Regions from separate parts of the Homo sapiens genome. Here all the other regions are linked to region 2. Evidence: fine-mapped expression QTL. A gene starts in region 2. Each other region holds a variant in brackets. All regions are shown on one strand. Distances are between the middles of the regions.

Region 1 (8,012 bases), 33 kb before region 2:
TCCTCTTAGCTGCCAAAACTCAGCATGTATTTGTAATCAAAGCAGAGACAGCCCTATTCCTCTGTATCATTTTCACCCTGCCAATTCACTAGGCATCAAGGGTGTAAAAAACTGCCTGGATATACCTCCCATATATAAGCACCATGCTTATCTGAGAAGCCCTAGAACTCTGTGGATGAACCTTGAAGGAGCCTCCAAGCCTGAACCAAAGCACTACAGATCACCTGCTATCTTCATAGCACCATGAGGTAAAGTCTTTCTCTGCTTCACTGACCTTATTTCTGCACACTTTGAAATTCTAAAACTTTCCTTAAGGGCCAATTTTTTGACAGGCCTTCTCCTAAGGGAGCTGTCCCACTGGTGGTTCTGACCCTGATAGGCACCCTCAACATGATAACCAAGAAGAGTTTAATAAGGGGGCTATTTAAGACGATATGGGCAAAGTTTAGGGAAATCAACAGGAAATGGTGCTTGTTGGTTGCAGGGCAGCGGGAAGAGGCGTGTTGGTTTACAACAGTGGTAACATGATAACCCTGGGCCTACAGGAGCAAGAGGAGAGAACCAGACCCAAGGAGACTCTAAGCTATAGCTGTAGGGGAGGGGCTTCTCAAGAGGCCTTTGGTGAAAAAATCACTGACAACCTCAAGCAGAGCACAGTGGGAGCTTAGGAATTAATTCCATGACCTTCACCTCCTCCTGCAATTTAATATCTGGCTGGTGCTCCCCAGTGGGCCAACCCCAGTAGAAAGTAAAAAATAAAAGAGTTTTGGAGTTAATAAAGTCCATAGAGTCAGCTTCCAAGCACAGAGCATGGTGAAGAATGTAGGAAAGTAGATTCAGAGGGGCAAGATGAGAATATATGTAGAGGCAAGTTTCCTAACTCCTGTTACAGAGCTCGCTTAGTAAGGGTAGCTGGCTTAATAAAAGCAGCAATGCTCTTAAGGAAATAAACGAGAAAGCAATCTTATTTCCAAAGATGTCATTTCTGTAGCACTTTCTAATAGAGGGACAATTACCCAGGCAACACTTAAAGACTGTTCACCAGGGAACAGAGGCCTGAGCCTAGAGAGGAGACTGGCCCGGGGACCAGTCAGGGCAAGAGCATTGAGATCCTTTTAATATACAAAATACTCTTTTAGGCATCCAGGTGAGAAGAAGCAGCTATTTTTATTTGATAAATTGGTTAAATTCACGTGGGAAAAAGAAGCTACTTTCAGAGATGGCTGTTTTTCTGTTGTTTGTTTGTTTTTGATACCAAGTCAAATTTTGTGATTACTGTGAAACTATGAAATTGTGATTACTATGAAATTTGCTTTTCACTGAATTAACTGTTCTCAAAGTGTGGTCCCCTGACTAGCAACATCAGCATCACTTGGGAAGGTAGCAGAAATGCAAATTCTCAGGCCCTACCCTAAACCTGCTGACTCAGAAACTCTAGGGTGGGGCCCATCAATCTGTGTGTTATAAGTTTTCCAGGTGATCATGTTGCCTGCTAAAATTTGAAAAACCATTATACTAGATGTTAGAAAATAAGAAATTTTGTAGGCATTGTGATATGTTTGTTCCACAAAATATATATTTCTTTTTTTCCTGGTGTAGTTAGAACTGGTGACCTGCAGAAAATGCTTTCACTCAAAAGTATTCTGACCTGCTAGAGTTCTCCCATCTGATGTTGCAGTCAGTGGGAGAGGAAGAACTTTACAGAAAAAGGGGCTGCTCTTTTGAGATCCCTTTCTAGCAAACATGTAGACCTGTCTTGAGAAGAAATTATAAATGAAGGATTGCAAAAAAATTCACCACAAGAGTACCCAAGTCTCTCTTTTTAATATAACGGGCTCCTGGTCATAAGATGTTAGTTGTGGCTGGGCATGGTGGCTCACACCTGTAATCCCAGCACTTTGGGAGGCCGAGATGGGCAGATCACGAGGTCAGGAGATCAAGACCATCCTGACTAACAAGGTGAAACCCCGCCTCTTCTAAAAAATACAAAAAATTAGCCGGGAGTGGTGGCGGGCGCCTGTAGTCCCAGCTACTCAGGAGGCTGAGGCAGGAGAATGGCGTGAACCTGGGAGGCGGAGCTTGAAGTGAGCCGAGATTGCACCACTGCACTCCAGCCTGGGCAACAGAGTGAGACTCCGTCTCAAAAAAAAAAAAAAACAAAAGGTATTAGTTGTGTCTGCATCTGTGGAGTTGACAGAAAGCAAGCCTTTCATTCCCTGCTGCCTTGGTAGCTAGTCTATGTGAGAGGTTTTGCAATGGCCTGGGCGTATGTTTCTAGAAGCCACTGACCTGAGGTGGCCTAAGGGGAATCTGGACTATCCCAGACTGAATAATGCCCACATCAAAATCCTCCTGATCCCACTGGTTCAGGGACAGAGGAGCAGATTGAGCTCCTCCTTCCATTCATGCTTATTGATCAAGACAGCTTAAGTGGAGCTTAAGTGGACAAGATCCAGGGAAATGCCTCACAAAACATGGTGACGAGTCCCTGTCTGCCACAGGCATACAGGGATTAGGTCACTACATACATGCACAAACTCATCTTTTTTTTTTTTTTTTTCCAGACAGGGCCTCCCTCTGTCACCCAGTCTGGAGTGCAGTGGCATGATCACAGCTCACTGCAGCCTCCACCTGCCCGGGCTCAGGTGATCCTCCCACGTCAGCCCAAGTCGCTGGGACTACTGGTGTGCATCGCCAGGCCCGGCTAATTTTTGTATTTTTTGAGAGACATGGTTTCGCTATGTTGCCCATGCTGGTCGTGAACTCCTGGGCTCAAGCAATTCACCTGCCTTGGACTCTCAAAGTGTTGGGATTACAGGCATTAGCCACCACGCTGGGGCCTAATTTGATGATAATATGTATACTACTAATAACAGCACTTTCTGTATGCTCACCAGATAAAAGGAGGACTTTAGGCTCTCAGCATTTCCATTTTAGAGAGTGAGGACACCTCTAGGGTGATATTCTACTCCTTAGTCTTCCCAGGGCCCAAGTCAAGAAGATACATGTTGATGAACAACCACCTATAAGAAAGAGCAATAATTCTCTTCTGGAACTTGGCAGGGCAGCCTTGTAAGATTGTGTAAATTGTGCACTTGAAATTCTACAATCTCAGTGAAAGCCAAAATCTAGTATACTTTTTTCCACCTATCAATGCATGGCCATGATTAGATCACTCAGAGGAAGACTGATCTCTTTCTACTGCTCACAAATGTGCTGGGTGGGCTAGCAGCTGAGATGCTGAGATTGGGTACATATTTAGAAAGCTTGGAATGGCTTATCTTCAAATATTCCAGCAGCTCTAGAGTAATGGAAGTCTGTGTGGATTATTTTCCCTGGGTAGTGTCTGTTCTCATCATAGCACAAGCTCCACGGGGCATGAGTGGACGATTTGGGTCAAAAACTCTTCCCGATTCCATCTTCTGTAGGGGTGGTGACTATTTTCAGTGAGCATTCTTCAGCACAATATTAATTTTACTTACTCCTGACCCCACCTCACCCAGCATATGTCCCACACACACCCCCACACACAGGTTTCATTGGGTAATCTTCCTGGGCCACAGCTGGAAGGAAGATTTCTGGGACTCCTCATCTCAGCAGTCAACTATACAGTCCTATCCTAAAGCAATATGCCAGGACTCTCATATTCCACAGACTCAAGGATGGAGAAGATGGCTTGGGATTGTGGGCAGGAATGCACTCAAGGAGGGTCTAAGCATAGTAGGGAGTTTTTTAGATGGAGACTCTGAGGGAAAAGTGAGGGCTGTGTTGAGCTGCCAGCTGTGCTCAAAGCAGCAGTCATAAGCCTGAGTATCCTCTGCCCAACTTTGTGGTGCTATTCATTATCTTGTGAATCCTTTCCTTTCTTCCTTTCTTTCCTTTCCTTTATTTTCTTTATTATTAATTTTTTTGAGACAGAGTCTGGCTCTGTTGCCCAGCCTGGAGTGCAGTGGCATGATCTCGGTTCATGGCAACCTCCACTTTCCAGACTCAAGTGATTCTTGTGCCTCAGCCTCCAGAGTAGCTGGGACAACGCTGGCTAATTTTTTGTATTTTTAGTAGAGATGGGGTTTCACCATGTTGCCCAGGCTAGTTTTGAACTCCTGAGCTCAGGCAATCTGCCTACCTCGGCCTCCCAAAATGCTAGGATTACAGGTGTGAGCCACCACACCTGGCCGTGAACTTTTTCTTTCCCTTTATTTTCAAAAAAGAATGTTTCATCATCCATTTTTTGTGATTAGATTATGGTTATATTATATTATATTATGGTTATATTGAGTCAGGATTTATATAAAAATTGTTTTTGCTATACATTGCCATATAGAGAGTAAGAGAAAATTTCATAATGGTCCTCTCTGAAATCATTCCTTGGGCCTAACGGATAGAAAACATGTCAAGTATAGACTGTAAAGTAATTAGTTTAGAACACAGAGGTAAATATACTTACATAGGATGTGAGGACCACTTTTTCAACTATTAAGGACAAATTTCTTTTTCTTCCTTCATGTTCTTATAGGGAGACTAGGACTTCAGTTCCACTTCAGAGGAGCGTGAACTATTGGGGAAAAAAACCCTTCTGGTCCCACTGACTTCATATTATTCTCTCTTCCTCATGAGTGGCTGAGAGATTACTACAATTGTTGAGATTTTATAGCCTGTCCTCCACTAGGCTTCAGGGTTACTTGATGTCAGGAGCACTGACTTACAAAAGTGGGACTTGCCACTTCTTCAAAGAGACACATCTTACCTATGTAATGTTCATTCATGCCTCTTCTTCTGTCCCCATCAGTAAGGCTGCCCTTGTGAGGTGGTTCCACCCACTTGGAACCCCTCCATTTAGGATTGGTTGAGTAAGTGCACACAGGCAAAGGAGTTAGAAACCCTACCACATTCTCCAACCTGGCTTGAGCATTCATGAAGTCCTGCATTTGAAACC[A/G]TATTTGGCTCTCATATTTTACTCAGAACCCTTCATGGGAGGAGAGAAAACCAAAATGTGTTTACGTGTTGAGAACATGAAAAAGATGAGTAAGGAACCCACCTTTCTGTGAACCCTCTCTCCACATTTCTTCTGACTGCATTAGTCATGGACTGCAAAGTCAGGAGGAAGCAGAAAGAAGACAGGTTTTGCAGTGTTGAGGGTGGTGCTGAGATTATTTTGATGTTAGCAGAATTAACCTCTTTTGAATTGACTTTTAGACTTCATGTAACCTATCTGTTGGCACTACAAGATGATTAGCATTTCCCCTTGGTTTTTATGTCAACCTGTTCTCTTTCCTAATGACATGACTGTAGAACCCAGAGGGGCACCAGATAATGGAGGCAGGGAAATTAGGATAGAGCATATTTGACTATTTGAAGTGCTGGCTTCATTTTCAGTGGACTGAATACTTTCTCAAAATGTAATTAATTGCTGCCTATTTTTACAGTGAAGAATCTGATGGAAAGCTTATTGAAGACAGCCTGATTCAGCTGAGATGTCACTTTACATGGAAGTTGTTAATTGAAGCCCCTGAAATTCCTGATTTAGAAAACAGGATCTGGGAAGAGATTCAGTTCCTGGACACCAAATACAATGTGGGAATACACAACCTACTAGCCTATGTGAAACACCTGAAAGGCCAGAATGAGGAAGCCCTGGTCAGCTTGAAAAAGGCTGAAGACTTAATTCAGAAAGAACATGCCAACCAAGCAGATATTAGAAGTCTGGTGACCTGGGGCAACTTTGCCTGGGTGTATTACCACATGGGCAGATTGGCAGAAGCCCAGACTTACCTGGACAAGGTGGAGAACACTTGCAAGAAGTTTGCAAATCCTTCCCGCTATAGAATGGAGTGTCCAGAGGTGGACTGTGAGGAAGGATGGGCCTTGGCGAAGTGTGGTGGAAAGAATTATGAACGGGCCAAGACCTGCTTTGAAAAGGCTCTGGAAGGGAACCCTGAAAACCCTGAATTCAATACTGGGTACGCAATCACCGTCTATCGCCTGGATAAATTTAACACAGCATCAGGGAGGAATAAGGCATTTTCTCTGCACGTCCTAAAACGAGCTGTCAGGCTAAATCCAGATGATGTATATATTAGGGTTCTCCTTGCCCTGAAGCTTCAGGATGAAGGACAGGAAGCTGAAGGAGAAAAGTACATTGAAGAAGCTCTGACCAGTATATCTTCACAGGCCTATGTCTTTCAATATGCAGCCAAGTTTTATCGAAGAAAAGGGTCTGTGGATAAAGCTCTTGAGCTCTTAAAAATGGCCTTGGAGACAACACCCACTTCTGCCTTCCTGCATCACCAAATGGGGCTTTGCTACAGGGCACAAATGATCCAAATCAAGGAAGCTACAAACTGGCAGCCTAGAGGGCAAGATAGGGAAACTGTGGACAGATTGGTTCAATTGGCTATATGCAAATTTGAAAAGACTATAATGTTAAAGCGAACATTTGAGATGGCCTATGTTGACCTGGCTGAAACGTATGCAGAAATAGGCCACCACAGAAAGGCTGAGGAACATTTTCAGAAAGGGTTACGCATGAAGATCTTTGAAGATCAGCTAAAGCAAGAGATTCATTACCACTACGGCCGTTTCCAAGAACATCATGGGAAATCTCAAGATAAAGCAATTACCCATTATTTAAAAGGTTTGAAAATAGAAAAAATGTCCCATTCCAGGGAAAAACTTCTCAATGCTTTAGAGAAATTGGCTAAAAGATGTATTCACCAGAATGTACGGGTTGTGGAAAGTGTCAGCCTCCTTGGGCTTATCCACAAATTGAAAGGAGAAGTAAGTGATGCTTTGCTGTGCTATGAGAGGGCTCTGAGGCTGGCTGCTGACCTGAACCCTATATTTTAACATAGAGGTCACCATTATCCATTTAATGGTCTTATAACTAAATAGAATGACTATGAAATTAAATAATGCAAACTTAAAGCTGTTGGAAATTTACCTTATTTTGAGCCTTGAGAGGAATGTGGCTGTGTGGCCTGAGTTATGTAGCATGCAACTGCAACTTCTGCTTTTTCCTGTAAATGATCAGGAAAGGCCTTGTGGCACCAGACATAAGACCCCCTGAAAGTATCATCCCTCCTGATGGAATGGTAAAGCAATCTTTCTTGGAACATAGCAAGTAGTAACCGATCAAATTGCTATAACGTGTGTACTGACCTTATGTGGAAAATGCTGCAACCCTGTTTACTGCCTATGTAAGTGAAATCTTAACTTCCCCATTTTGGAATGCTGACTCCAGTCATTAGGTGTCTGTATTTCCTGAGTGGTTACCCTCAAGCTTTGTGCTCAAATAAACTCTATACTTAATCATAGTTTCTGAATTCCATTATTTGAGATTGAGACAACAGTCTTTCCCAATTGCTGCCTTCAAAAATGTATAGTCTGATGAAATACAAAATACTTCGGTATAACACATACTCTATTGCCTGGCCACCCCCCTCATTTTTTCCTCTTCAATCCATGTGTCTGCGGCAGGAGCATCTATTCTTCCACAACACATCCCTGCATTCATTGACCAAGGCTTATTAATGCTGTTTTAGGCACCTACATCTGCTGGGACAATAAGAATCATTTTCCTTAAAATTTTGCCTTTGGAATGAGCAGTTTTCATCCTCAGTCTCCCAAACAAAGGAGACCTAAACAGGGAAGGTTTCTGTTCCATGTGGCCAGGGTCACTGACCTGCAACAAAACCTAAGAGTAAAATAAATGAGCAAAGACAAGAGTTAGAAAGGAGGGAATTTCAGGAGTTCTACAGCATTCTAGCTGGAGTTCTATTTCCCAAGGCCCTACTGTAGCTGGGACCTGCTGGTCAGTGAGCCAAGCCTTATAATAAATTCAAATTTTTGTTTACATGTGTCCAGCTGCTGGCAATCACAAGGGATCTACGTGACCCAAACACACTGCTGGACATTTATTCACACCTGAGATCACACCTAAAATCACACATCTAAGATTACACCTAAGAGCTTTGCTAAGATCACAAATTCTTGGAGTGTATTTTATTAGTGAT
Region 2 (8,012 bases):
CCTTTAAAAGCCAGGGTAAATTTAAAACCTATAATTGATAACTGAAGGTCTTCTCAGAAACCCTATAACACTCCAATACCACCTTGCTGTCAGTGTAAACAAGGGCGTAGCCTGAAAGCACTGAGGCCACTGACAACCAGTAGCCTTCCTATCAAAAATCCTTACCCAGCAGGTTTCCTAACAGGGGATCTAAATCTTAATTAATTCCCATACAAAGGTCTGACCAGATCTAGGAGGAACTCCCTTCAGGACAGGACGGATAGATGGTTCCTCCTGGGCAATTAAGGAAAAAAAAAACACAATGGGTATTCAGTAAATAATAAGGAAACTCTTGTAGAAGCAGTGTTAGGAAAATTGCCTAATAATTGGTCTGCTCAAATGTGTCAGCTGTTTGCACTCAGCCAAACCTTAAAATACTTACAGAATCAGGAAGGAGCCATCTATACCAATTCTAAGTTAATATGGACTGAACGAGGTCTTACTAATAGCAAAGAATAATTGAAATCCCAAACTTACAAGGTTTTCAACTAACGTAAAGTTTGCTAAAAGTTAACAGTGTAACATGCATTATCCTACTACCATACACTCTCAAAGGATTTCTCAGACAGTTTGCATGAAATAATGAAATCTATCCTTACTCTACAATCCCAAACAGACTCTTTGGCAGCAGCGACTCTCCAAAATCGCCAAGGCCTAGACCTCCTCACTGCTGAGAAAGGAGGACTGTGCAGCTTCTTAGGGGAAGAGTGTTGTTTTTACACTAACCAGTCAGGGATAGCACGAGATGCCACCCGGTGTTTACAGGAAAAGGCTTCTGAAATCAGACAACACCTTTCAAACTCTTATACCAACCTCTGGAGTTGGGCAACATGGCTTCTCCCCTTTCTAGGTCCTGTGGCAGCCATCTTGCTGTTACTTGTCTTTGGGCCCTGTGTTTTTAACCTTCTTGTCAAATTTGTTTCCTCTAGAATTGAGGCCCTCAAGCTACAGATGGTCTTACAAATGGAACCCCAAATGAGTTCAACTAACAACTTCTACCGAGGACCCCTGGACTGACCTGCTGGCCCTTCCACTGGCCTAAAGAGTTCCCCTCTGGAGGACACTACACCTACAGGGCCCCTTCTTCGCCCCTATCCAGCAGAAAGTAGCTAGAGCAGTCATCAGCCAAATTCCCATCAGCAATTGGGGTGTCCTGTTTAGAGGGGGGATTGAGAGGTGAAGCTGGCTGGGCTTCTGGGTCAGGTGGGGACTCAGAGAACTTTTCTGTCTAGCTAAAGGATTGTAAACGCACCAATCAGCACTCTGTGTGTAGCTAAAAGTTTGTAAACGCACCAATCAGCACTCTGTCAAAATGGACCAATCAGCACTCTGTAAAATGGACCAATCAGCACTCTGTAAAATGGACCAATCAGCACTTTGTAAAGTGGACCAATCAGCTCTCTGTAAAATGGACCAATCAGCAGGATATGGGTGGAGCCAAATAAGGGAATAAAAGCAGGCCACCCCAGCCAGCAGCGGCAACCTGCTCGGGTCTGCTTCCACGTCGTGGAAGTTTTGTTCTTTCGCTCTTCGCAACGAATCTTGCTGCTGCTCACTCTTTGGGTCCACACTGCCTTTATGAGCTGTAACACTCACCACAAAGGTCTACGGCTTTACTCCTGAAGTCAGTGAAACCACGAACCCACCGGGAGGAACGAACAACTCCGGACGCGCCACCTTTAAGATCTGTAACACTCACTGTGAAGGTCTGCAGCTGCACTCCTGAAGTCAGCAAGACCACGAACTCACCAGAAGGAAGAAACTCCAGACACATCTGAACATCGAAAGGAACAAACTCCAGACACGCCATCTTTAACAACTGTAGCACTCACAGCGAGAGTCCGCAGCTTCATTCTTGAAGTCACCAAGACCAAAAACCTACTGGAAGGAACCAATTCCGGACACACCATCACCTACGTATTAAGCTCAGCATCACTTAGCTATACTTCTTGATGCTCTCCCTCCCACCACCCCCAACTCCAACAAGCCCCAGTGTGTGTTGTTCCCCACTGTGTCCGTGTGTTCTCATCATTTAGCTCCCACTTACAAGTGAGAACATGCAGTGTTTGGTTTCTGTTCCTGCATTAGTTTGCTGAGGATAATCACTGGAAATACTTGCTCTGTATTTAGAGTTCATAAAATTTGCAACTTATAAAAAGCAGATTCGTATACCTAAGTTATTCCAAATGTAAGTTTTCTATTAACTTATCAGTTTTTAAATTTATATTAAATTAAAAATCAGGTTCTTAATAGCCACAGGTGACCAGCAGTTTCTGTATAAGACAGTACAACTGTTAGAAGTGATTGCTTTAAATGAGGCACTCGCTTCAGGCACTAAGTTTTGAGGGGTGGGGTGCCAGAAGCTCAGTGATCAAGGTAGACAATATTTCAATGCAATATGTTTTTAAAAATTCAAAATCAGGCCAAGCATAGTGGCTCATGCCTGTAATCCCAGCATTTTGGGAGGCCACGATGGGCGGAACAATATTTAAGGTTTAGAAAAATATTTGTGCCCAGGTGTTGGAGACCAGCCTGGGCAACATGGCAAAACCCCGCCTCTACAAAAAATAAATTAATTAGCCCGACATAGTGGTGCACGCATATAGTCCCAGCCACTCAGGAGGCTGAGGTGGGAGGATCGCTTGAGCCATGAAGGTTGAGGCTGCAGTGAGCTGTCATCTCACCACTGCACTCCAACCTGAGTGACAGAGTGAGACCCTGTCTCAAAAAAAAAAAAAAAACCAAAATCAATGCAAAAGATGAATTATGGACAGGATATTGAGGTTTTGAATACAGACATTAACTCAATAAGGGTAAGGCCCGTGTCTGTTTTCTTTATTGTTATATTGACAGTACTTTGAACAAAGTCTGGCTCTTACAGTTGTTTGTCAATATTTGCTGAATGAATTCAAAGGGGACAAAATGTTTAAGGTATGGGTGTTTGACATTTTCTGCCTAGATCCCCAATACCACTCTTGTCTTTATTGGGTCCTTATTACAAAGCACCATTGGCGAAGGTATGGAAGAGAAGCAGTCTCCTACAATTGTGGGTAAGAGTGGATTTTTAAAGCTATTTGGCAATATCCGTCAAAACTTAAAATGTATATAGATTTTAGCTCCAAATTTCTCAGTTTACACCCAACAGAAATAACAGCATAGATGTATAGCATTGCAGTGTTGCTTGTTGAATCAAAAGACTGGAGTGGAAGCAGGGACTTAAGTTTCCGCCTGTAATCCCAGCACCTTGGGAGGCAGAGGCGGGCGCATCCCTTGAGATCACGACTGGGTGACACAGTGAGACGCTATCTCAAACAAACAAACAAACAAACAAACAGTTACACGGGCAGCATGCGAACTCAGCGTACTCAGGGAGGCAGATAAAAGCCGAGACCAAAGTGAAGGAGCCCAGCTGCAAATTCAACTCCGAAAGACCCTGGACTCCGCAAACGTCTGGCCGCGGCTCTTGAGCTCTTCTATTAAGTTTCGGTTTCTGAAGCTTACGTTTAGTTTCGATTTCTTAAGTTTCAGTTTCTGAGCGCTCGGCATCTGATTCAATCTCCAGTTTCCTGTTCTTGCTGGGGCTGGGGTCTCTCCTTTAACAAAGACACGCCGCGCGGCCGAGTCCAGGGGCTGCAGAGGCCTGGCGCGCGCACGCGCACGCGCACGCCCACCGCGCGGCTTCCCGCGGTCCCCGGTGCTGAGGAGAGAGCGATCCGAGGGACTGCGCCGCCCGGACGGCCTGCAGAGCGCTGCCATCATGAGGTAAGGGTTTTCCTTTGCCTCTCCTCCCAAGCCCTGCGTCGGCCTTGGTTTCAAACCGGGCTGCTTTTATTCATTTCCAGCGCAGTTCTGCGGCCTTTTCAGGGGCCGAGCCCCTCGCGCCCAGCAACCGGGCATCTGCGTTGGGGACCCTCCCCGGGCGCTCTGTCCCGGCGCGCGGCGTCTGAAGTCGGGCCTGCCGGGGAGGGTGGCCGAGTGGACGCTTCTCGGGAGTCCGGCCCCTCCCCAGCGCCTAAGAAGGCCGGTCAGGGAGGAGGAACAGGAGATGCTCCCCGGGAGCCTGTCCCATCCCTGGCGTCTGCGGTCGGGACTGTCAGGGTATGTGCCGGGCGACGCTCCCCCGGAAGGCCTGTCCACCCATCGCGACCCGACGGCTCTTCTCGGCAGCGGCGACGGTGACCGTGCTGGGTCCGCGGCCGCCGCCTCCGGGAAACTGGTCAGCGCCTGCAGAGCCCCCAGGCGCTGTTCCGGGGGCAGCTGCTACGTGCCACGGGTCTCCTTAGGCCTGTCGCGTGCCTCTCTTTCCAGCTGCCATTCCCTCGGTGTGGCATACGCGGTTTCGCCGCAGCCCTGCAGGCGTCAGGTTCGCCTGCCACTGCCAGTTTGCGTTTCTGATTTCTGGGTCTGAGTTCTTCCCTTCCCAGGAGCTACCTCTGTACCAAGCACAGATTGTTATCGTCCCACCCAATCCGCTGTTTTATGAGGATTTCTTTATCTGTTTCCTTTACTGATTTAGTATGATGGCGTCCTTTTCTTGATCATTTTGTATCCCCAGGGGCTAGCACCCCGCCCTGCACGTGGTTAGTGAACCTTCCGCATTTAATGAGTTGAGGAATGAGATGTTAAGGTCTTGGGCTCTAAAAGCAGATAGTCCCTTGTTCTAAATCCGGACTGAACTCCTACTAGTTGAGTGATCCCAAAGTTTCTCAAACTCTGTGAGTCTGTTCCTTATTTGTAAAAATTAATGGTGTCCATCTCTTGGGACTGTGGAAAAGGACAGTAATAAATCCTATCAGTTGACTGCTTAGCACATAATACTTGCACAATAAATGTTAATTATTCCCATTATAAGTTTAAAAAAAAAGTTTAAGTGCCACCCACACATCTAACTTTATTTTTGAGACGGAGTCTCGCCCTGTCACCCAGGCTGTAGTGTAATGGCTCCATCTCGGCTCACTGCAACCTCCGCCTCCCGGGTTCAAGCCATTCCCCTGCCTCAGCTTCCCGTGTAGCTGGGATTACAGGCGTGTGCCACCACGCCTGGCTAATTTTTTGTATCTTTAGTAGAGACGCGGGTTTCACCATGTTGACCGGGCTGGTCTCGAATTCCTGACCTCGTGGTCCACCCGCCTCAGCCTCCCAAAGTGCTGGGATTACAGGCGTGAGCCACAACGCCTGGCCACATCTAACATTTGTAAGAAAGGAGAGTGCTATCAGGAAGGGGCTTGACAACAACAACAACAACAAAACAACAACAACAACAAAAAACAGAAAAAGACGGTGGCGTGCACCGTATATATGCAGGATGGGGAGGAAAAGGGCTCAGCCCCATTGGGGACTGTCTCCCAAGGACAATGAAAGTCTGCTTCTTCCTAGCAGAAGAACAGAATTACCGAAAGATACGTGTTACCTCTTCTGATGCAATAGCTTCTCTCTTATTAGCTTCCCAAAGACAAAGTTACAAAATTAAGTAGACAAAGTTTAAACAATAAAAATTCTCATGGTGTCCAGTTGTGCATAAATTCCAGAGCCTGGACAAACCACGTCAGTACCTGATTGAATGTCCCTTTGAGATCTTACAACCAAATCCATAATACCTGAGCAGCCCTCCTCATCCTCCTTGGGCTGGGCTGGTAGAGACCTTCAAAACAGGTGTTTGTTTTAGGCAGGGGGCTGGTAAAGCCATGTTGTTGTGGATTTAAGCAGGCTGTAAGGACATGGCATGTCTTGCCCATATTTTTGGTACAATTACACTAGAGAAAGGAACAATTACCAAGGAGCAATTTTACCAGGTTTCCTAGTCAGGATCAGTACTCATAATACAAAAATGGAATTTTCATATTAATTATTGAATATGTATATATTCATTCCTAATTTTCAATGGTTTAGTGATTGCCAAAAGGAAATAGATACATGTAATACAGAAAGCTCTGTCATCTCTCCAGAACTGTTTTTGCAATAAATAGTGAGAATTTAAATGAAATATTTCTAGGACATAACTGTATATAGAAGAAACTCTAGTATAAAGTTATGGGAAACTTATGTTTTAACTGTAAGATCAAATAGGGATAAAATTAGTTGTTATGCAAAGAACAATATTTAAGGTTTAGAAAATTATTTCTTGTATTTCTTCAAAAATTAAAAAGTATTTTATCTTTGACAGTGAAATTCGTAAGGACACCTTGAAGGCCATTCTGTTGGAGTTAGAATGTCATTTTACATGGAATTTACTTAAGGAAGACATTGATCTGTTTGAGGTAGAAGATACAATTGGGCAACAGCTTGAATTTCTTACCACAAAATCTAGACTTGCTCTTTATAACCTATTGGCCTATGTGAAACACCTAAAAGGCCAAAATAAAGACGCCCTTGAGTGCTTGGAACAAGCAGAAGAAATAATCCAGCAAGAACACTCAGACAAAGAAGAAGTACGAAGCCTGGTCACTTGGGGAAACTATGCCTGGGTGTATTATCACATGGACCAGCTTGAAGAAGCTCAGAAGTATACAGGTAAGATAGGGAATGTCTGTAAGAAATTGTCCAGTCCTTCTAACTACAAGTTGGAGTGTCCTGAGACTGACTGTGAGAAAGGCTGGGCACTCTTGAAATTTGGAGGAAAGTATTATCAAAAGGCTAAAGCGGCTTTTGAGAAGGCTCTGGAAGTGGAGCCTGACAATCCAGAATTTAACATCGGCTATGCTATCACAGTGTATCGGCTGGATGATTCTGATAGAGAAGGGTCTGTAAAGAGCTTTTCTCTGGGGCCTTTGAGAAAGGCTGTTACCCTGAACCCAGATAACAGCTATATTAAGGTTTTTCTGGCACTGAAGCTTCAAGATGTACATGCAGAAGCTGAAGGGGAAAAGTATATTGAAGAAATCCTGGACCAAATATCATCCCAGCCTTACGTCCTTCGTTATGCAGCCAAGTTCTATAGGAGAAAAAATTCCTGGAACAAAGCTCTCGAACTTTTAAAAAAGGCCTTGGAGGTGACACCAACTTCTTCTTTCCTGCATCACCAGATGGGACTTTGCTACAGGGCACAAATGATCCAAATCAAGAAGGCCACACACAACAGACCTAAAGGAAAGGATAAACTAAAGGTTGATGAGCTGATTTCATCTGCTATATTTCATTTCAAAGCAGCCATGGAACGAGACTCTATGTTTGCATTTGCCTACACAGACCTGGCCAACATGTACGCTGAAGGAGGCCAGTATAGCAATGCTGAGGACATTTTCCGGAAAGCTCTTCGTCTGGAGAACATAACCGATGATCACAAACATCAGATCCATTACCACTATGGCCGCTTTCAGGAATTTCACCGTAAATCAGAAAATACTGCCATCCATCATTATTTAGAAGCCTTAAAGGTCAAAGACAGATCACCCCTTCGCACCAAACTGACAAGTGCTCTGAAGAAATTGTCTACCAAGAGACTTTGTCACAATGCTTTAGATGTGCAGAGTTTAAGTGCCCTAGGGTTTGTTTACAAGCTGGAAGGAGAAAAGAGGCAAGCTGCTGAGTACTATGAGAAGGCACAAAAGATAGATCCAGAAAATGCAGAATTCCTGACTGCTCTCTGTGAGCTCCGACTTTCCATTTAAATACATACTCTAGGAAATTAGCTCTAAGTTTTTCCCTTCATTTTGGGTTCTCCTGTTTGTTTTTTTTTTATTATTTTAATCCCTTGTTTATTATAGAGCTAATATTTATTGAATAGTTATTGTGTACCAAGCATTGTGCTAAATACTTTATATGCATTATGATGAATCTTGTGCGGTTTTCTTTCTTTTTTTCTTTTTAATTAAAATACTATAATCCATTGAGAAATAGCAATATTCTAGCTATTGTAACTTCTAAAAATGGTATGGCCATTAGATCTGTGCTTTTTATCTCTGCTCTTTGAATTTCTCATATTATATAGTAAATATATTCCTACGTAAACCTTTGATACCTAGATCAGGAATACT
Region 3 (8,012 bases), 98 kb before region 2:
TAAGAAAATCTGTATTACCTCAAAAATAAGTATGTTTAATGTAAAATGGTGCAGCCACTTTGGAAAATAGTTGGACAGTTCTTCAAATGGTTAAACATAGTTACCATATGACCCAGCAATTCCATTCCTAGATACATATGTAAGAAAAAGGAAAACATGAAAACATAGGTTCACACAAAACTTGTGCATGAATGTTCATAGCTGTATTATTCATGATGGCCAAAAAGTGGACCCATCAACTGATGAATTGATAAATTAAATATGGTAGAGCCACATAATGGAATATTATTTGGAAACAAAAATAAGTGAAGTACTTACTGATACATGATACAACACAGATGAACCTTGAAAACATGCAAAGTGACAAAAGGCAATTTAAAAAGTCACATATTGTATGATTCTGTTTATATGAAATGTGGAACGGAGGCAAATTTATAGACACAGAAAATAGATTAGCAGTTGCCTAAGGCTAGGGGAGGGGGTTGTGACGATGGGAGATGACAGCTTGAGAATGTTCTATAATTGATTGTGGTGCTGGTTGCATAACTGTGAATATAATGAAAGCTATTGAATTGTATACTTTAAATGAGTGGATTATATGATATGTGAATTATATTTTATTATAGCTGTTAAAAATGGGCACTCTTATTCCAAATATAATAAAGAAAATTTTTCTTTTGTTATCTATTTTTACTTCTAAGTTTGTTTTCATTGTGTTGTATCCTTATTAGTAGCATTTTGAATACTGTCATTGCTTTCACATTCGGTAGATATGTTAGATAAGTTATGTATTCTATTTTCTGAGTTGGGTGTGCTATGAAAATCTGGTCCCATCTGATTTTATATTTAAATACTCATACGCAGGAACCTTACTGATTGGCAAATTGGCACAAAGAAAGAGTCCAAATACAGAAGAGAATTTGACTCCATATGTAAGTTCAAATCTGCATGTGTACAAGTTTAAGAATAATGTGAATTTATGCCCGAGCGCAGTGGCTTACGCCTCTAATCCCAACACTTTGGGAGGCCAAGGCGGGTGGATCACGAGGTTTAGAGATCGAGACCATCCTGGCCAACATGGTGAAACCCCATCTCCACTAAAAATACAAAAATTAGGTGGGTATGGTGGTGGGTACCTGCAGTCCCAACTATTCGGGAGGCTGAGGCAGGTGAATTTCTTGAACCCAGGAGGTGAAGGTTGCAGTGAGCCGAGATTGTGCCACTGCACTCCAGCCTGGCTACAGAGCGAGACTCTGTCAAAAAGAAAAAAAAGAATAGTATGAATTTCTTAATGATGCAGAATGTTATTCAGTCACCATGTGCAACTGTTGCAAATACTGCTAATTCATGAGTACTTTTTGAGCCAGGAATTAGAACAAAAAGAAAAGCAAGAAAATGGACAATAGGTCCTACTGTACTGGAAAAATAATTATTCATTACATAAGAATCTATTGCATTCTGGTGAAAGACAGTCTTTGAGCAGTTTGCTGAATTTGCCTTTTCTCTGATCTTTATTGCTACAATCCTCTCTGAACTCCAAAGCAGAATCTGTCTCTAAAAATCAGCTCCCTCACAATGCACAAACATGCATGATATAATCTCCATTCATTGTGAGCAAAGAAGGGAAGATAGGCAACTTTTCCCTGGGCTGGATGTTTAGGGTTTCAAGTCCAATTCTACCAGAATTAAGCACTGGATTCTGAGTAACAGAGGTGCTATTTGTTCTTTCAAAATTTTACATGTTTGTATCTGTGATATATGGGACCCTCTAAAGCACGGGGCCAAAGGCACCTTCTAACTGGGTATAAGGATGGTATTTATACCATTTATGATATCACAAATATATGTACCTTTTATAAAGATATGTCACTTTATTATCACCAAGATAACAAATTGTTAAGTTAAACAACCAATCAGAATTAGACTTTTCCAAGTTGCAGGTTTCTTTCTTAGACTATAACAACCTCTGAACTCGAAGTATCTCATGAGACTCTGTTGTTGGAAACACCATATGTCATGTTAATTTTGCTACACAAGAGTCTCTGCTTTGTGCAGCTACAGGATGGAGGAAACGCTTCTAGCTAACAATTCCTTCATTATCAAATTAGTCATGACAACTATACTCCCTAGGTTTTTATGAATATTTACATCATGGTTGGGAAGTATTATAAAAATGAAAAGAAAAAAAAAACCTCTCAGGGTAGTATCAACTCCTTCAGAGCTCAAAGCATAAATATATAATCCATCCATTAAACAATAATATGTGTATTACTTTTGCCCATTTTACAGCTGGGTAAACTAAATTATTATCCAGAGCTTGGAAAGCTAAACAGCTCACAGATCCCTCCAGGGCCTGGCTTCGTATGTTTAGTGTGAGGCAAAAAGGAAATTCTGGCTCAATGATATGGCCCCTGGAAAATTCGAGAACTAGTAAAGTAAACAGAGATAATTAAATCTAGGTCTCTAGGTCTAAATTTACTTCTGGGGGACAATTTACTGGACAAAACTACTATTTTTTTTTATTATACTTTAAGTTTTAGGGTACATGTGCACATTGTGCAGGTTAGTTACATATGTATACTAAAACTACTATTTTTTTTACAAAACATTTTGGAAGTCTTTCATATAACCGGCTCCCAGAAACCCCTACATCAGAATCTCCTAGAGACATTATTAAAAATGCAGTTTCAGAGGAGGTTCCAAGATGGCCAAATAGGAACAGCTCCAGTCTATAGCTCCCAGCATGAGTGATGCAGAAGATGGTAGTTTCTGCATTTCCAACTGAGGTACTGGGTTCATCTCACTGGGGCTTGTCAGATAGTGGGTGCAGCCCACACAGTGTGGGCCAAAGCAGGGCGGGGCATCGCCTCACCCGGGAAGTGCAAGGAGTCAGGGAATTCCCTTTCCTAGCCAAGGGAAGCCATGACAGATGGTACTTGGAATATTGAGACACTCCCACCCTAATACTGCGCTTTTCCAACGGTCTTAGCAAACAGAACACCAGGAGATTATATCCTGCTCCTGGCTCAGAGGGTCCCATGCCCAGGGAGCCTTGCTCACTGCTGGCACAGCAGTCTGAGATGGAACTGCAAGGCAGCAGTGAGGCTGGGGGAGGGGCGCCCACCATTGCTGAGGCTTGAGTAGGTAAACAAAGTGGCTAGGAAGCTCAAACTGGGTGGAGCCCACCACAGCTCAAGGAGGCCTGCCTGCCTCTATAGACTCCACCTCTGGGGCAGGGTATAGCTGAACAAAAGGCAGCAGAAACTTCTGTAGACTTAAACACCCTTGTCTGACAGCTTTGAAGAGAGTAGTGGTTCTCCCAGCACGGAGTTTGAGATCTGAGAATGGACAGACTGCCTCCTCAAGTGGGAGTTAGTCTGTTACTCCTCCCTGAGTAGCCTAACTGGAAGGCACCTCCCAGTAGGGGCTGACTGACACCTCATACGGCAGAGTGCACCTCTGCGATGAAGCTTCCAGAGAAAGGATCAGGCAGCAACATTTGCCTTTCTGCAGCCTCCACTGGTGATACCCAGGCAAACAGGGTCTGGAGTGGACTTCCAGCAAACTCCAACAGACCTGCAGCTGAGGGTCCTGACTGTTAGAAGGAAAACTAAAAAACAGAAAGGACATCCACACCAAAACCCCATCTGTATGTCACCATCATCAAAGACCAAAGGTAGATAAAACCACAAAGATGGGGAGAAACCAGAGCAGAAAAGCTGAAAATTCTAAAAAATCAGAGTGCCTCTTCTCCTCCAAAGGAATGCAGCTGCTTGCCAGCAATGGAACAAAGCTGGACGGAGAATGACTTTGATGAGTTGAGAGAAGAAGGCTGCAGACAATCGGTAATAACAAATTTCTTCGAGCTAAGGGAGGATGTTTGAACCCATGGCAAAGAAGCTAATAACCTTGAAAAAAGATTCGACGAATGGCTAACTAGAATAAAGAGCGTAGAGAAGACCTTAAATGATGTGATGGAGCTGAAAACCATGGCATGAGAACTATATGACGCATGCACAACCTTCAGTAGCCAATTCATCAACTGGAAGAAAGGGTATTAGTGATTGAAGATCAAATGAATGAAATGAAGTGAGAAGAGAAGTTTAGAGAAAAAAGAGTAAAAAGAAATGAACAAAGCCTCCAAGAAATATGGGACTATGTGAAAAGACCAAACATACATCTGACTGGTGTACCTGAAAGTGACACGGAGAATGGAACCAAGTTGGAAAACACTCTGCAGGATATTATGCAGGAGAACTTCCCCAACCTAGCAAGGGAGGCTAACATTCAAATTCAGGAAATACGGAGAACGCCACAAAGATATTCCTCGAGAAGAGCAATTCCAAGACACATAATTAGCAGATTCACCAAAGTTGAAATGAAGGAAAAAATGTTAAAGGCAGCCAGAGAGAAGGGTCAGGTTACCCACAAAGGGAAGCCCATCAGACTAACAGCAGATGTCTCGGCAGAAACTCTACAAGCCAGAAGAGAGTGGGGGCCAATATTCAACATTCTTAAAGAGAAGAATTTTCAACCCAGAATTTCATATCCAGCCAAACTAAGCTTCATAAGTGAAGGAGAAATAAAATCCTTTACAGACAAGCAAAGGCTGAGAGATTTTGTCACCACCAGGCCTGCCTTACAAGAGCTCCTGAAGGAAGCACTAAACATGGAAAGGAACAACCGGTACCAGCCACTGCAAAACATGTCAAAGTGTAAAGACCATCGGTGCTAGGAAGAAACGGCATCAGCTAACGAGCAAAATAACCAGCTAACATGATAAGGACAGGATCATATTCACACATAACAATATTAACCTTAAATGTAAATGGGCTAAATACCCCAATTAAAAGACACAGACTGGCAAATTGGCTAAAGAGTCAAGAACCATCAGTGTGCTGTATTCAGGAGAGCCATCTCATGGCAGAGACACACATAGGCTAAAAATAAAGGGATAGAGGAAGATCTACCAAGCAAATGGAAAATAAAAAAAGCAGGGTTGCAATCC[T/C]AGTCTCTGATAAAACAGACTTTAACCAACAAAGATCAAAAGAGACAAAGAAGGCCATTACATAATGGTAAAGGGATCAATTCAACAAGAAGAGCTAACTATCCTAAATATATATGCACCCAACACAGGAGCACCCAGGTTCATAAAGCAAGTCCTTAGAGACCTACAAAAAGATGTAGACTCCCAAACAATAATAACAGGAGACTTTAACACCCCACTGTCAACATTAGACAGATCAACGAGACAGAAAGTTAACAAGGATATCCAGGAGTTGAACTCAGCTCTGCACCAAGCAGACCTAATAGACATCTACAGAACTCTCCACCCCAAATCAACAGAATATACATTCTTCTCAGCACCACATTGCACTTATTCCAAAACTGACCACATAGTTGGAAGTAAAGCACTCCTCAGCAAATGTAAAAGAACAGAAATTATAACAAACTGTCTCTCAGACCACAGTGCAATCAAACTAGAACTCAGGATTAAGAAACTCACTCAAAACTGCTCAACTACATGGAAACTGAACAACGTGCTCCTGAATGACTACTGGGTACATAAGAAAATGAAGGCAGAAATAAAGATGTTCTTTGAAACCAATGAGAACAAAGACACAACACACCAGAATCTCTGGGACATATTTAAAGCAGTGTATAGAGGGAAATTTATAGCACTAAATGCCCACAAGAGAAAGCAGGAAAGATCTAAAATTGACACCTAATATTACAATTAAAAGAACTAGAGAAGCAAGAGCAAACACATTCAAAAGCTAGCAGAAGGCAAGAAATAACTAAGATCAGAGCAGAACTGAAGGAGATAGAGACAAAAAACCCTTCAAAAAAATCAATGAATCCAGGAACTGATTTTTTGAAAGGATCAACATTATTGATAGACCACTAGCAAGACTAATAAAGAAGAAAAGAGAGAAGAATCAAATAGATGCAATTAAAAATGATAAAGGGGATATCACCACCAATCACACAGAAATACAAACTATCATCAGAGAATACTATAAACACCTCTATGCAAATAAACTAGAAAATCTAGAAGAAATGGATAAATTCATGGACACATACACCCTCCCAAGACTAAACCAGGAAGAAGTTGAATTCCTGAATAGACCAATAACAGGGTCTGAAATTGAGGCAATAATTAATAGCCTACCAACCAAAAAAAGTCCATGACCAGATGGATTCACAACTGAATTCTACCAGAGGTACAAAGACGAGCTGGTACCATTCCTTCTGAAACTATTCCAATCAATAGAAAAAGAGGGAATCCTCCCTAACTCATTTGATGTGGCCAGCATCATCCTGATACCAAAGCCTGGCAGAAACACAACAAAAAAAGAGAATATCAGGCCAATACCCCTGATGAACATCGATGCAATGCAAATATCCTCAATAAAATACTGGCAAACTGAATCCAGCAGCACATCAAAAAGCTTATCCACCATGATCAAGTTAGCTTCATCACTGGGATGCAAGGCTGGTTCAACATATGCAAATTAATAAATGTAATCCAGCATAAAAACAGAACCAAAGACAAAAACCACATGATTATCTCAATAGATGCAGAAAAGGCCTTTAACAAAATTCAGTAGCCCTTCATGCTAAAAACTCTCAATAAACTAGGTATTGATGGGACATATCTCAAAATAATAAGAGCTATTTATGACAAACCCACAGCCAATATCATACTGAATGGGCAAAAACTGGAAGTATTCCCTTTGAAAACTGGCACAAGACAGGGATGCCCTCTCTCAACACTCCTATTCAAAACAGTGTTGGAAGTTCTGGCCAGGGCAATCAGGCAGGAGAAAGAAATAAAGGGTATTCAATTAGGAAAAGAGGAAGTCAAATTGTCCCTGTGTGCAGATGACATGATTGTATATTTAGAAAACCCCATAGTCTCAGCCCAAAAGCTCCTTAAGCTGATAAGCAACTTCAGCAAAGTCTCAGGATCCAAAATCAATGTGCAAAAATCACAAGCATTCCTATACACCAATAACAGACAAACAGAGAGCCAAATCATGAGTGAACTCCCATTCACAATTGCTTCAAAGAGAATAAAATACCCAGGAATCCAACTTACAAGGGATGTGAAGGACCTCTTCAAGCAGAACTACAAACCACTGCTCAATGAAATAAAAGAGGACACAAACAAATGGAAGAACATTCCATGCTCATGGATAAGAAGAATCAATATCGTGAAAATGGCCATACTGCCCAAGGTAATTTATAGATTCATGCCATCCCCATCAAACTACCAATGACTTTCTTCACAGAATTGGAAAAAACTACTTTAAAGTTCATATGGAACCAAAATAGAGCCTGCATTGCCAAGACAATCCTAAGCCAAAAGAACAAAGCTGGAGCCATCACACTACCTGACTTCAAACTATACTACAAGGCTACAGTAACCAAAACAGCATGGTACTGGTACCAAAACAGAGATATAGACCAATGGAACAGAACAGAGCCCTCAGAAATAATACCACACATCTACAACCATCTGATCTTTGACAAACCTGACAAAAACAAGCAATGGGGAAAGGATTCCCTATTTAATAAATGGTGCTGGGAAAACTGGCTAGCCATATGTAGAAAGCTGAAACTGGATCCCTTCCTTACACCTTATACAAAAATTAATTCAAGATGGATTAAAGATTTAAATGTTAGACCTAAAACCATAAAAACCCTAGAAGAAAACCTAGGCAATACCATTCAGGACATAGGCATGGGCAAGGACTTCATGTCTAAAACACCAAAAGCAATGGCAACAAAAGCCAAAATTGACAAATGGGATCTAATTAAACTAAAGAGCTTCTGCACAGCAAAAGAAACTACCATCAGAGTGGACAGGCAACCTACAGAGTGGGAGAAAATTTTTACAATCTACCCATCTGACAAAGGACTAATATCCAGAATCTACAAAAAACTTAAACAAATTTACAAGAAAAAAATCAAACAACCCCATCAAAAAGTGGGCAAAGGCTATGAAT

Alleles and levels. Positions count from the first base shown, and alleles are read on the strand shown. Sizes are in standard deviations (SD) of each study's normalised expression. Not every link is listed here.
In carriers of allele G in region 1, the expression in atrial appendage of the gene that starts at base 3,566 in region 2 tends to be lower than with A alone (moderate effect, 0.75 SD a copy in GTEx).

The links.
Region 1: its variant is fine-mapped to the expression of IFIT5 in atrial appendage (GTEx, PIP above 0.99). The same link has a PIP of 0.9 or more in stomach.
Region 3: its variant is fine-mapped to the expression of IFIT5 in whole blood (TOPMed, PIP above 0.99).

The regions. Positions count from the first base shown.
Region 1 is chr10:89,377,893-89,385,904 of GRCh38, forward strand. IFIT1B (interferon induced protein with tetratricopeptide repeats 1B) reads left to right here and starts at 164. Exons shown (of 2, transcript NM_001010987.2): 1 at 164-248; 2 at 5,427-7,313. The coding sequence starts at 244. The coding sequence ends at 6,846. It also overlaps a transcript of LIPA not described here. The variant A/G (reference allele first, on the strand shown) is at 4,937.
Region 2 is chr10:89,411,003-89,419,014 of GRCh38, forward strand. IFIT5 (interferon induced protein with tetratricopeptide repeats 5) reads left to right here and starts at 3,566. Exons shown (of 2, transcript NM_012420.3): 1 at 3,566-3,801; 2 at 6,203-8,012. The coding sequence starts at 3,797. The coding sequence ends at 7,646. It also overlaps a transcript of LIPA not described here. RefSeq lists enhancers at 3,423-3,732, 4,343-4,442, 4,543-4,612.
Region 3 is chr10:89,313,407-89,321,418 of GRCh38, forward strand. It overlaps a transcript of LIPA not described here. Among named protein-coding and RNA genes, the nearest start is that of IFIT3, 11 kb to the right of the region's middle. The variant T/C (reference allele first, on the strand shown) is at 5,009.